2 separate regions of the Homo sapiens genome follow, and region 1 is linked to region 2. Evidence: fine-mapped expression QTL. Tissue or cell type: tibial artery. Region 2 holds a variant in brackets; the other region holds the start of a gene. All regions are shown on one strand. Distances are from middle to middle.

Region 1 (2,689 bases), 540 kb after region 2:
GCAGGGTGTCCCCGGGCCCTGAGTGGCCAACAGCAACTGGGGAAGCACTGAGGAACCCTAACGGGAAAGCCCGCCCCACATCTGAAACAGGCAGCCCGTGAAGTCCCCAAACCAGCCTTGAAACGCCGGCGTCCAGAGGCCAGGTCCCCGGCGAGGGTCCCTCCCAGCCTTGCCCGCCCCCGGCCCGAGCGCCGGGCGCTCTGTCGCCCGAAGGACGGATAGGGGAGAGAGGGGCTGGGGGAGCCCTCCGCGTCTCTCCACCGCCCCTGCCGGCGCAAGGGCGGGAGTGGAGAAGGCGCCACTCAGACTGTGGCGCTGGGCAAACTGCGGTCGCAGTTCTTCCAAGTTTGCCCGAACCAGAACGCGGAGTGAGCGCCCGGCTCGGCTCTCCGTCTGCGCCTTGCAGCCGCCCCGGAGTGACCCGGGCTCCCTGGCCAGCCGGGCCTGAGCCATCAACTAAGGGGTAGAAGGGCGCGAGAGCAGCGGGAGGCGGGAGCCAGGGTGCTCCCGCGTGTGCACACAATGAGGCGGCGGAGACGCACACCTTCCCCCGCCGAAGAAGCCGCAGGAGCATCCGCCGCCCAACACGGAGACGCGGAGTCCCATAGCGGTGGCAGAAAGTGAGCACCAACTCAGCAACAGGGGGAAGGAAGGGGACGCCGGGCGGCCAGTGGGACGTGCGGCAGCCGAGGGCTGCAGCCTGCCCCTGCAGCGCGCCCGCGCTTACCTGCGATCTCCTGGTAGGGGATGTCCGCCAGGCTGAATCCCTTGGCACCGTACGCCTGGCGGACCTCTCCGCAGCTCCGAGCCTTCACATCCGCCCCGGCGGGGAGGGAGAGCAGCAGCCCCAAGAGGGGAAGAATCACAGCCCCGATCCAAGAAGGCATGGTGCAACATACAAATCCAGCTCGGTAAACCCCACGGCCGGTGCGCTCTTCACCTTGCCCCTCAAGCCGAAAGCCCGCCAGAGGCAGCGGCGCGCTCCTCGCCGCTGCCCAGCGTCACCCCCTTCTGCCAGCCGAGGGGACGAGCAGCGCAGCCCTCTGGACTGCGCTCAGCAAACTTTTATAAGCCAGATGGACGATGGCAAGCCAACAAGGGCTGGCTGGGAAGGCTGCTGCCTTGCTCCTCTAGCCCCCAGATGGAAACGGTGCAATCAAAACGAGGAAGAGAAGGAAAAGAAGTGTTTAAAAAACCACCATGGGGGTTCAGAGCTGCAATCCGAGTTCCGAGCCGCAGAATCCTGGAGCGCTGCGGGCTCGGCTCGCCGGAGTGTGCGGCAAAGGTGGGAGCGCGCGCCGGCTCCCCCGGGAGGGAGATGGACAAGCGAGAGCGAGTGTGTATGCGCGCGTGTGTCTGTTGGTGTGAGCTCGAGGTTCTTGGGGATGTGTGTGCGTGGAGGTATGTGTTGGGGATATACGAGATCTAGGGGAAACCTCAGCTTAACACAGGCTGTGGGAGCCTGTGAGAGTCCTCCTGAAATAGGAAGAGAGAAATCCTGGAGACAGTCACTGGAGGCAAGAGGGAAGGAGAAAGGAGGGGGGAGAAAGAAACGTGCTACACATTGCACAGCCGAAATTCACAGGCCGAGTCAAAGGCAAAACCTGGACTGGATCTCTTCCTAGTCGGTAGAAAGGGGAAAAAAAGAAAAAGAAACGTACCTATTTTCTTATTCACTTCACATCCTTTATACCGATCTGAAATGACATCAATAAACAATCTAGAAAGACAAGGTAATTTTAAGTCATTAACATGTTATTAAGCTGTATTTTTATGGAGGTAAAGGATAACGCAGTTCCAATTGTTGCTCTTAATATGTGTCCCTGACCTACTGAAACACAAAGCCAGAGTGGAAATAGTCATAGACGGGAGTTCATGGGTGGCAGAGCACAATCACGGCTCTAACTAGTTGCCTAATTTCTGTTTGACTTTGTTTTTTTCTAAAGGCACACATTACAGACTGGTAGTTCTTAATTTTTAAAGGTTTGGTTCTAGACTCAACAATTTCCCCTTTTTTTATTTCAAATATCTCATAGCCTTCGATCAGAAATCATTATGCTTAGGTTTCTAATGTGTGGAGGATCGGGAAAGCTAACAACCAGACCACAGAAGCAACAAGAAAAGGAGAGCACAAGGGTCAGAGGTGCATAAAGGGACATAATGGGGGAAGGGAGGTGATTCCTTCCCTCTCACTAGATGCCCTCACATAGTAGACTTAACATTTTCTTCCAAGTTAACATAATTCTCAAGTGGAGAATCAATCCAATTTCTTCTTCCTGTCTCCATTTACACTGATGTTCTGTGAACGGGATAAAAGTGAAAATTCAGGTTTGCCTAATTGACTTTGTTATGCTAATGGACGCACTAAAGTCAGCTGGCAGAAGTGTGTGTTGAAACCCAGAGCTCCTGAAACTACTAAGATAGTTTAATGAAAACCAAGACAAAATAATAATAATAATAGTGTTTATTCACTTACGTGGCTATGTGTCATAGGTCAGCACATTATTCACAAACTACTACAAGGTAATGCACAGTTTTGTGGAGCTCACCTATGAAGCTACACATGAAGATGTTTTCCTGATGATGATATGAATGACCAGAATGACTCATGAAGTTTAAATCTTTGAGTTTGTCATTATCATCACAACATATTAGGTACATTGTCTTCCTCTCTTTAATAAATTCCCCC
Region 2 (2,689 bases):
CTTCAGTGTATGTGTTATCAATATGTTTGGCACAGAACAGACTGAATGAGCAAATGGCTTGATCTGTGAGACAATGCAGATTACTGAGACTGTAGGATAATGCAACAAGGAGTGCTGGATGATGTTACAAAGCACATCCTCTGCTACCTAGAGGGTTACGTTACGTTTTATGATTTCATCAGTCAACAAATTGAGAACCATCCTAAGGATGAAAAAAAAAACTACTTAAGTAAGTGCCAAATAAGTCTGTAACCTTATTTGACCAAGAAAGTATGGGGGAGAAAAGGATTTATTTCTAGAGGAAGTGGGTCTTGGTCTAATATTAGCCTTAAGTTGAAGTGCTGAGAACTAGATAGAGAGTTGCAGGGTTGATGTCTGCAAGCAAATTTCAAAAAGCAGTTGCTGGGTCTGGGAATAGACACTACTGAGGAAGAAATCATTACAGTCCATAGAAGAATCCAGAAAGAAGGTGGGTAGAATCCCTCTCCTATCATGGGAAGTGTGGATAAGCCTTTCTACCTCCACAAAGCTTCTGAGGCACAGCCCCTTTGAGTCAGAGAGAGAAAGTCCAGTTAGCACACTAGCTAAGAGGGCCTGTCTTGGAAGAAGATGATATAACACATCACAGCTCAAAGAAATGGTGGCATGCCTCAGACCACTGCCGGCTTAGGAGACCAGTGAGAAACTTCCTTTACCAAAGATTAGTATTCCAGGAAGCCAAGAAGAAAATAAATACCTTTGGACCTAAAGAGAAATAATATGTAACATTCATTGAACACTTAGTATCAGGCATTACATTAAGTGCTTTACATATTTTATCTCATTTAATTCTAAAACCAATGTTATGAGATTGTTGCTCTCATTATATGTAATAAACCACGCAATAACTAAAAAATATGCAAAAATAAAAATAGATAAGTAACATAACTATTTTATACCCATAAAAGTGGGGGTTGTATGGTTTTTTAGAATAATTAGGATGGAAAGATGGAAAGCAGACAGATGCATGCACTATTTTGGCCCTCATCTTCAACCCTAAATAGGGTAACTAAATGTCTCAATTTACTCAGAAGTATTCAGGCTTTAGCACACAGCTCAGGAAATCCTTCGTTCCTTGGCAAACCATAATGGTTGGTGATCCCATTCCCCCAACTACTAAATTTTGAAC[T/C]ACTTGGCAAATAAATACAGAGATTTAAGCCCCAGTATGTCTGGAGTCAAGTCAAAGCATGTTTTGCTTTAACAATTTTCCAGGTGATGCTGGTGCCTACCAAGATTGGAAAAACACTGACTGCAGCTGAAAGAATACAGGTAAAGCATGAATCATCCTTCCCAGGCCTGCATTTATTTAGAGGTTGTGTGTGCAAGCCAACTTCTGCCTTCCACTTAATTCCCATCTGGTTGAGGTGCCAAGCCACCCATAAAATAACTATAGATTGAAAGCAAAGCAAAGCAAGTGTGCAAGCACAAAGAGAAAAGTTAATTAAAAATATGGAAGGGGTAAGAGTGTAGAAATAAGGTGAATGAATGGATATCAGGAGAAGAGGAGTGCAAGAGGAAAGCAGTGCCTGGGTTTGGAGGTTTGGAAGGGAAAGCTGTGGAGAAAGGTGATCCTCCCAGACTCTGCGCACATCTTCTCCCTGCTGCTTTTTGGGGCTGTCTTTTTTTTTTTTTTTGTCACGTGCAGCAGCCACTCACAGCTTGTGTTTCTCTGAAACTTGGATCATTTTACCAGCTATTTAATAAGACTAAATAAATGGTGTCAGCATCAGAAAGCATTGCACATTTTGTTTAGAGACGTGTACATTCCTTCTTGCTATTAAACTGTGATAACTTTTGGCAAGAATATTACTTTGCTCTGTCTTCTCTGAGAAGAAATTTTCCTTCTGTTCTCACATGGCCATTGAAGAAACAAAGACTACCATATTTAATGGAAGACAAAAGGGCATGCATTTGGGAAAATATTGACTTAGAAAACCTTATCCCTGAGAAAAAGATTGTAAGGGAATGAGCCGATGAAAAATCCCATGTGATTTACAGAATTTAGAAACTTCTTTTTTTGCTAATGTTAATTTATCACTTAAAATTGACCCAGAACATTAAATCAATACCAATTTTAGCTAGCCACTATGTTTTTGGAAATTAGAGTTTAAATCCCACTTTTGTTAAGTAGGAAAAAAATAATCCCATAAAGCTCCCAGTTGGGATCTAGTAAAAGGGCATCCTTTTATGAAAGAAGCTTCCCAGAGAGCAAGCAAATAAATGACCCCCAAAGAGGACTGAAGGCTTTTTACCATAAATGTGTACTATTTTCAACATTAGTTTAATTAAGAATGGATATAAAAAATAAGTCTTCAGAGCCTGCATAAGCCAGCATTTATCTTTAAAAAAATTCCTGTATGAATTCCTGTACGAAGATCATCTTAATGGCCATCACTGCACGCGATCATAACTTTCAGCACTTGCCTTCCTCTGCTTTGTCTCCTCACACTTTTACTCATGCCTTGTTCCTAAATTTAAACTGAAATGAGGACAGAGAAGGTGTCTCATTCATTTCTCTGTCCATTTGTTCATTCATTCATTCAACCCATATTTACCGAGTGGCCGGTATGTGTCAGGGTTAGTTTTAGGACCTGGAATACAGTGGTGAATAAAAATGCAGTCACTGAATTATGTTTACAGGCTTGGGGAG

Direction of the effects. Positions count from the first base shown, and alleles are read on the strand shown. Sizes are in standard deviations (SD) of each study's normalised expression.
As copies of C replace T in region 2, the expression in tibial artery of the gene that starts at base 1,537 in region 1 goes down (moderate effect, 0.42 SD a copy in GTEx).

Evidence for each region. PIP is the estimated chance that this variant, and not a neighbour inherited with it, causes the effect.
Region 1: it holds the start of GPC6, and the variant in region 2 is fine-mapped to the expression of GPC6 in tibial artery (GTEx, PIP above 0.99). The same link has a PIP of 0.9 or more in left ventricle.

Annotation. Positions count from the first base shown.
Region 1 is chr13:93,225,655-93,228,343 of GRCh38, reverse strand. It overlaps GPC6 (glypican 6), which reads right to left and starts at 1,537. Exons shown (of 9, transcript NM_005708.5): 1 at 728-1,537. The coding sequence starts at 887. RefSeq lists a silencer at 1-48 and an enhancer at 102-944.
Region 2 is chr13:93,768,418-93,771,106 of GRCh38, reverse strand. The region is part of intron 2 of GPC6 (glypican 6); the gene reads right to left. Among named protein-coding and RNA genes, the nearest start is that of GPC6-AS2, 89 kb to the left of the region's middle. The variant T/C (reference allele first, on the strand shown) is at 1,169.